Linked DNA regions of Homo sapiens: region 1 is linked to region 2. Evidence: fine-mapped expression QTL. A gene starts in region 2. The other region holds a variant in brackets. All regions are shown on one strand. Distances are between the middles of the regions.

The links.
Region 1: its variant is fine-mapped to the expression of MOB3B in monocytes after Pam3CSK4 (Quach 2016, PIP 0.95). The same link has a PIP of 0.9 or more in monocytes, monocytes after LPS and monocytes after R848.

What each region holds. Positions count from the first base shown.
Region 1 is chr9:27,464,236-27,468,621 of GRCh38, forward strand. All of the region lies in intron 1 of MOB3B (MOB kinase activator 3B), which reads right to left. Among named protein-coding and RNA genes, the nearest start is that of IFNK, 58 kb to the right of the region's middle. RefSeq lists an enhancer at 1,014-1,515. The variant A/G (reference allele first, on the strand shown) is at 2,451.
Region 2 is chr9:27,527,622-27,531,958 of GRCh38, forward strand. It overlaps MOB3B (MOB kinase activator 3B), which reads right to left and starts at 2,193. Exons shown (of 4, transcript NM_024761.5): 1 at 1,934-2,193. It overlaps LOC124902107 (dapper homolog 3-like), which reads left to right and starts at 835. Exons shown (of 2, transcript XM_047424279.1): 1 at 835-1,105; 2 at 1,399-3,079. The coding sequence starts at 835. The coding sequence ends at 2,387. RefSeq lists silencers at 921-970, 1,941-2,240.

The sequences.
Region 1 (4,386 bases), 63 kb before region 2:
GGCAATGGAAGCCCTGCATAGGAGGAAAGAAAGAAAGAAAATGCTTCATTCTTGCTTAATTTGGGTGGACTTCTAATTCTCAGGCAAAAAGAAATAATATTAACCTCAGTGATTTGATAATGAGTTAACAATATTCCCCAACATTTATAACACACTTACCCTAATATTTTGAGGGAGTTCCAGTATTTTTTTGCATATAATAAATCTAATGCAATATGGCTTATTTCATGAATTTGGGCAAATTATATCCACCATGCCCTCCCACTAATCCCTCAAACACTTTTCAGAATAGCATATAAATACTCTACATTTAACACATTACATTCCTGGTTATAATCCAGTTACAACCTCTGTATTCTGATAACAGAAATGACTTTCTAAACTGTTTAAAAAGTTATTTTTTATATTAGCTCATTTTCATGCTGCTGATAAAGACATACCTGAAAATGGGAACAAAAAGAGGTTTAATTGGACTTACAGTTCCACATGGCTGGGGAGGCCTCAGAATCATGGCGGGAGGTGGAAGACACTTCTTACATGGCAGCAGCAAGAGAAAAATGAGGAAGAAGCAAAAAAAGAGACCCCTGATAAACCCATCAGATCTCGTGAGACTTATTCACTATCACGAGAATAGCATGGGAAAGACTGGCCCCCATGATTCAATTATCTCCCCCTGGGTCCCTGCCATAGCATGTGAGAACTCTGGGAGATATAATTCAAGTTGAGATTTGGGTGGGGACACAGCCAAACCATATCATTCTGCCCCTGGCCCCTCCAAATCTCACGACCTCACATTTCAAAACCAATCATGCCTTCCCAACAGTCACCCAAAGTCTTAACTCATTTCAGCATTAACCCAAAAGTCCATAGTCCAAAGTCTCATCTGAGACAAGGCAAGTCCCTTCCACCTATAAGCCTGCAAAGTCAACAGCAAGCTAGTTAATTCCTAGACACAATGTGCGTACAGGTATTGGGTAAATACAGCTGTTCCAAATGGGAGAAATTGGCCAAAACAAAGGGGTTACAGGGCCCATGCAAGTCCGAAATCCAGCAGGGCAGTCAAATTTTAAAGCTCCAAAATGATCTCCTTTGACTCCAGGTCTGACATCCAGGTCATGCTGCTGCAAGAAGTGGGTTCCCATTATTTTGGGAAGCTCCACCCCTGTGGCTTTGCAGGGTACAGCCTCCCTGCTGGCTGCTTTCATGGGCTGGCATTAAGTGTGTGTGGCTTTTCCAGGTGCACAGTGCAAGCTGTCAGTGGATCTACCATTCTGGGGTCTGGAAGACGATGGCCCTCTTCTTACAGCTCCACCAAGCAGTGCCCCAGTAGGGACTCTGTGTGGGGGCTCCAACCCCACATTTCCCTTCTGCACTGCCCTAGCGGAGGTTCTCCATGAGGGTCCCGCCCCTGCAGCAAACTTTTGCCTGGGTATCCAGGCATGTCCACACATCTTCTGAAATCTAGGGGGAGGTTTCCAAACCTCAATTCTTGACTTCTGTGCACCCACAGGCTCAACACCACGTGGAAACTGCCAAGGCCTGGGGCTTCCACCCTCTGAAGCCACACCCTGAGCTCTACGTTGGCCCTTTCGGCCACAGCTGGAATGGCTGGGACACAGGGCACCAAGTTCCTAGGCTGCATACAGCACGGGGATCCTGGGACCGGCCCACAAAACCACTTTTTCCTGCTGGGCCTCTGGGCCTGTGATGGGTGGGGCAGCCATGAAGATCTCTGACATGGCCTGGAGACATTTTCCCCATGGTCTTAGGGATTAACATTAGGCTCCTTGCTCCTTATGCAGCCGACTTGAATTTCTCCTCAAAAAATGGGTTTTTCTTTTCTACTGCATCGTCAGGCTGCAAATTTTCTGAACTTTTACGCTCTGTTTCTCTTTTAAAACAGAATGCATTTAACAGCACCCAAGTTACCTTCTGAAAGCTTTGCTGCTTAGAAATTTCTTCCGCCAGTTACCCTAAATCATCTCTCTCAAGTTCAAAGTTCCACAAATCTCTAGGGCCACCAGTCTCTTTGCTAAAATATAACAAGAGTCACCTTTGCTCCAGTTCCCAACAAGTTCCTCATCTCCATCTGAGACCACTTCAGCCTGGACCTTATTGTTCACATCACTATCAGCATTTTTGTCAAAGCCATTCAACAAGTCTTTAGGAGGTTCCAAACTTTCCCACATTTTCCTGTCTTCTGAACCCTTCACATTGTTCCAACCTCTGCCTGTTACCCAGTTCCAAAGTCACTTCCACATTTTCGGGTATCTTTTCAGCAACGCCTCACTCTACTGGTACCAATTTACTATATTTGTCCATTTTCATGCTGCTGATAAAAACATACCCAAAACTGGGAAGAAAAAAGGGGTTTAATTGGACTTAGAGTTCCACATGGTTGGGGAGGCCTCAGAATCATAGTGGGAGGCAGAAGGCACTTCTTATACGGC[A/G]GCAGCAAGAGAAAATGAGGAAGAAGCAAAAGCAGAAACCCCTGATAAACCCATCAGATCTCGTGAGACTTATTCACTATCACAAGAATAGCACGGGAAAGACCGGCCCTTATGATTCAATTATCTCCCCTTGGGTCCGTCCTACAATATGTGGGAATTTTGGGAGATAAAATTCAAGTTGAGATTTGGGTGGGGACACAGCCAAACCATATCATTCCTGTTATCATTCCTGTTATCAGAATCCAGAGATCCTGCCAGAAGGATTAAGTCTGCATTTCTAGAAACTCTCAAGAGAGAACAGACAACCATCTAGCTAGATGATTTCTCATTTTTCTACATGAAAAACAGGTACACAAAGCAGGTAACCCTGAGATAAAATTGAGACAAATAATTAATGATTCTACCCACTCTATTCTCTCAAACATGCCAATAACAAGTTAAAAAAAAAGTTTGAAATGAAATTGAGTCAGACATGTAATTGCAAACCATGTATCCTCCTCAAAGACTGAAAAGAGGTCTACCTTTAGAGCCAGAAAGATGCAGGTCTGAGTCCAGACTCTGCCCCTTGACCAGTTACCCTTGTGGGCTAAATGCTTTCTCTTTGTGCTTTAATTTCTTTCTTTGTTGTTAGGGTGCTAATACCAATATCACAGTGGGTTTTGGGGATAAGTGAGATAATATAAGTAAAGATAGGTAAATGTCAAGTGTTAAATTTATTAATCTGGATTTCTCCTATGATCAGATTTCAGGTGGTGTGATGATCAATAGGAGTCCCAACCATAATGTGCTCTTTCTTTGACTTCTTCCCCACAAGACCTAAGCACATGACCCTCAAAAAGTGTAAAATCTTGAGGCACCTCAGAGGGAAGCACCATTTCCCCACTCGTGGTTTGGATGAGGAAGAATTTTCCCTATGCATCCTACTATCCTCTCTATGTCCTTTTACTAACATCGCCCCAGGGCAAGTGGAGGGATGGATTCACTTAGTTGGCAAACCGCACATGCTCAGCTGGCTCAGCCTGACCTTTTTTCCTCCTGCGAAGTGCCTGCTTTCAAGTGTGCTACCTGCTGCTTCCCCAGCTTTCTGCCTTTATGAATGGAATTGGTCTGCTCTCACCAGTGCTACATGGGAAAGGGTGGGCAAATCCAGAGTTTAGAGTTAACAGGCCCATTGGTTAACAGTCTGGCTTCCATAAGAAACAAAGTTGATTTTTGTTTTTGTTGTTGTATTGTTACTATCAACTTCTTTGAAGCCACATAGGGAAGAGTGGTGTGACTTGTTTATTAGGGCTCTATTGGAGAACTAACATTGTTAAGTTGTGCAGAGTGGCTTGGCTATGCAAAGTTAGCTGTTTTTGTTAGCAGAGACTCTTCGTGACATTAGTTCAACAAGAACTCTGTTTAAGACATAACTTACTCATCTGCAGAAAGTCTGTCTACACACCAGAAATGCATAGCCTTCTCAAGAGATTTCTCAGCTAAGAAAGAAAACCTAGTCATAGGGTGCATTTGTACCAGTTACTGCTCAGTGGCAGACACACAGAGACAGACTGCTCAGAACAGAGTCCCCCATCATCTATGAAGTGCTTCTGAATCCTCCACAATTGACAGTGAGCTTTAGGCCTGACAGTCCCATGCCCCTGTATGTGGCTACTGTCTGGGAACATGATTATCAGAAGCTTTCTCCAGGGAACTGAAAAACTTTCTATCCACTCAGATAAGGCCTCTCCCTTGCCCAGCCTCGATTTCCTCAAACTTCTCTCTGGCTTAACTTCAACTCCTGGTAAAGCAGAGGGAACAAGGTACCAAAAGAAGGAGCAAGAAGGACGGGATGGCTGGTCATCGTGTGCACCTTGCATGCACATCTCTGATGCGAATGCCCCAGGACCACATACTGTGCTGTATTTCTTTGCTCACATGTCTGGCCCCTCCATCA
Region 2 (4,337 bases):
CCCCTGGGTTGAGGAGGAATCAAAAGTGTAATTGAGCTTCCTTGGAAGAGGGACTCATTGGGGATCCCACAGGAAAAGCTGGCAACAGCAAGTCAACTGCAAGGCTATGGGGTAGCATAGGTTCTAACAGGTGCACAGTCTCAGTCAGCCTCCCCTCAGAGGCAAGACAACTCGCTGGGCACCATCTGGGGACCCTGACTTCTCAGAGTAGCTACTTTGCTTTTGCCCCAGTTCTTTAATCAATAATCCACACTAAGAATGAACACAATGTGTAAGCATCTGACTTGTGCAGGGAAACAGGGCCGCCTGCAACCCAACAAGCGCACCCACAGGGGAACTCGGGACCATCCTAAGCCACTTGTTCTCTGGGACGTGGAAGCAGGAACTGTGCTCTAGCCGTATCTGTGTTGCGTCGTCTGAGTCCTCTTTTTCTACAATGAAGAAAGGGGACTTGGGATTTAAACTTGGAGCGGTACTCAAAGCCAGAACTCCACGTTCATTCCGGAGTGAACCACCACACTACTATTTCCAGGCAACGTCATAAGGCTTCCTCGTTATTTGCATCTTCGTTCTCTTTTTGGCGACTAGCCTGCCCTCCCGCCCTTGGAAACTTGTGGACCCCAGAATCTCAGCTTTCCGCCTACCAAAGGTGCCCCGATCCCCTCCCACTGCCCTAGCAGCGGCCCAGCCCCAACGCCTTTGGCTAGAGATTGAAATCCTCTGGAACCAACCACTGGACGCTCTGGATTGGGGCGGAACGCGCTTCCACTGTCTCGAAAGCAGCACCTTCTCGGATTTGAGCCTTTGCGGCGCGCCTGGGCTGAGATCTGAGAAATGCGCCCTGGGCCACAGGCAGCAGCGGAGGCGGGGAAGGAACAACTTTCCCTCCGCCCTCTAACCACAAGGGCGGGGTGGGGCGGCCTCGCTGGGGTCGGGCTCCTCCACTTTCCCAGCTGGGATCCCCTGCCGGAGCTGGCGTGGGGGCCGGGGAGGGGGACCAGAGGGGCTTCCTTCTCTCCCCAAGCCCCGCCAGATGTTGGAAAGGCAAACAATAGGGGAAACGCGGAGAAACAAAAGGCCATTCGCCACGATCTCAGTCGGCTGCGTAGAGAGATCTCTGTGGGGAGGGTTAGGGGAGAGGGTCAGGAAAGAGCGCGAGGGGGGGGATCCCGAGAGATTTAGAGTCTCTGGTACTTGCCAGGCACCAGGGGTCGGCGCTTTACCCTCCCAGCAGGGGTCTGAAGGTGGGAAGGGGCAATCAAAGAAAACTTGAAGGGTTTTCACCTTCTTCCCCAGTTCAGGGAAAGGGAGGGGCTGGGATTCCAGATGTTTGACAGTTGTTGGCCCCAAAGTTAAGCGCGATTTGTACGGCCTTTACACGCTCCCCACCTCCGTGAGGCATCGTCAGCCCCGGGGGCGACCTGGCTGACGGTGCGGACTTCCCCTACGCTGCCCCAAGCCGAGACTCCTCCCTCAGGATCAGGACGCCCAAGCGTTGTCCCCCAGCCCAGGCGCACTTTTGTAAAAGTTTGTCTTCCCGCCACCCACAGCCCAACACGCACCCTGCAGGCGTCCGCGGCTGGGGATGGGCTCGGAGTCTTGCACCCCGAAAGAAGGACGATCTTATTGATTTATATCTTTTCAAATCAAGGACAAATCAAGATCCCGGGGTGGAAAGTGGGCGACCCTTGTTCCTGCCGGGAAGTGCACACGAGGAGCCGGCCAGAAACCCAGGCGCCGGCAGGGGTCTGAAGAGGACTCCAGCCCCGGAAGCCCGTGGCCGGCGGGCAGAAGACCGGTCCGCCGCCTCCCGCACCTTCTTGCACCCGCGCCCAGGTGCGCCCCAAACCTCGCCGCCCGCCCGGGCGAGATCGGGAGCGAGCAGCCACCGGGCTGCGCCGCCTCCCCTAGCTTGGAGCGGGTTCTTACTCACCGTGGGGTTTTACCTCCAGCCCAGGGCCCGGTCGGCTCCCTTCGCCGGGTCAGCTGCAGCCAGCGCGAAAGAAAATGGTGAGCTCGGGGCAGGTGGGGCGTCGCTTGCCAATCCACGCAAGGGACTCTGCCGCCGGTGCGCGAGGTCCCGGCGAGCCAACCGGCGGACGGGCGAGCGCCTGGCTCCAGCTGCAGCCGCCGTCGCTCCGGAGCAGCCCCCTCATGCACCCAGCGCGCCGCGCAGCCGGCCGGGGCTCGACTGTCTCGCGGGGACGCCGAGCGGGGACCCCTGGCGGCCGCCTGCGGTATGGCAGCACCGTGGAGAGAAAAGTCGTCTTTGGGATCATCTTCCCTCCGGAAAGAGATGGGACATGACCAGTCTAAGGGGGCTTCCAGCCTTGCAGAAAAGACACTGGGCCAGGGCAGTGAAGAAGGTGTCAGATCAGAAAGGATGATCTCTGGGTCCACAACGGCCACTTCCAAGGCACCTAGAGAGGGGGAAACAGTTTGCCTTCCCCAGGATTTTCTGATTGTTGAAAAATACCATGAACTGCCTGACACAGAGCGGAGCATAAATCATTGGAAAATACTCAGATTCTAGTGGATTTACTAGAACACACTGGGAGTCATGGATGAACCTGGATTTTAAAGCTCAACCCACAGCCCGCCACTCTCTACTTGTGTGGTCTTGGTCTATCTACAACCTTAAAGCCTCAGTATTCTCCTCCGTAAATTGGCGGGGAGCAATATCACCCTTGCAGGGTGATGGTTACGGGTAAACTACATTTGAAACGTTTTTATAGTTTATAGTAACAGAAATCAAATATGAGCTTCCTGCCTTCTGGAGAAAAAGAATTGGATCTTTCACATTTTTCTATTACCCATATGATCACATCTTAATGCATATTGATTGAACTGTACCAAATGACGAAGTACTGCATTTTACCATTCTTACTACACACTTCAAAGAGGTGTGGAAATATATTAAGTAGAAATTAGGATATATAGAGAAAACATCCCTCCTCCAAAAGAGGTTTCTGCAACTAACTACGAAGTGAGAACTTCTAAAATCACTTACATCTTTTGCAATATCATCTCAGATATTGTAAGAAACATTTAATAAATAGTCATGACTTAATGATATCAACCCTGGATTAAATGACTCTAATTCTGTGTCACTTTTGTGTAATGTAAAGATACCGATTGTGAATATAAGACTCAAATATGGGAAAACTGCCAGATACAAAAATACAGCCGCTAAGCAATATTTCTGTTCATCACCGAGGAATCTCATTTCCAAAGTGCCCCAGTTTTTAAGAGGAAGAACACCAGAGTCAGACAGACCCATAGCAGCTGAGTCTAACCTTTCTGAAGCTCTGTTACCTCATCTTATAAAATGAGGATAATATAGGTAGCTGTCATTCAATGAAGGAATGCATACAACATGCTTAGCATAACACCTGTCACATGGTAAGTGCTCCAGGGTCACCACCTATCATTGTTTCCAGCATACAGTTATCACCCCACCGACATGTAGCCCCTCCCTCATGAGCTCAAGAGCCCCCAGCACGTGTTCTACTCACACACGCACAAGCTTCAGTGTCCCTTAAGATGTTATCTCCTGGAAAGTAGGAACAGAAAGAGAATATTTTCAGGTAGTTTGGAACAGAATGAATAACATTCACATTCCTTGCCCAAGTCAGTACAGATTAATTTCCATCATTTCCAACTCATACTTTATACATTTCCCATAAGAGGAAAATCATGCTGGTTTTCAGTAGCATATGAAAAAAAAAAAATTCCAAGAGGATTCTTTTGCCAAGCCACTTCATTACAGCTTCCCCTTAGAGGATACCAAAGAAGCACAGGGATATTGGAAAGGTGTCACCATAGCAACATTGTAATAGACAGATGACAATAGAGTAAAAGCGAAGAAAGCACATTTGCATAGTCATTGACAAACTTGGACCTACAGTCATATTGCTCTGGGCAGCAGTGCTCAGAGTCCAAGGGCTACTCAAAGTAAATTTGGTAAGAGGCTATTTCTATTCATTTTGGCTGAGTCTGACTACCCAGTTCATTGTGCTCATGTGTGTGCTAATTGTAATTGTTACAGGCAGTTCACTAACAAACAGCAGACATCCTCAAGAGTCCCTTTCATCCTAAGCAATGTGAGTTCACAAATCTAAATGTGTACCTAATAAATCTTCAATAGTAAAGCGTACTTCCTCCTTACCTGCTTCTGTTTTGTTTTCAAAACCTTAAATAGTCACAGGTATAGAGAAATTGTCTCAATGCTTATGGGAGCTTCTGTGATAACTTATGTTAATTAACTCTGGGTACTGAAAAGAAACAAACGTGCATGGCTTCCCCTAAGCACTGAGGTAATGGCAATTCAAATAACA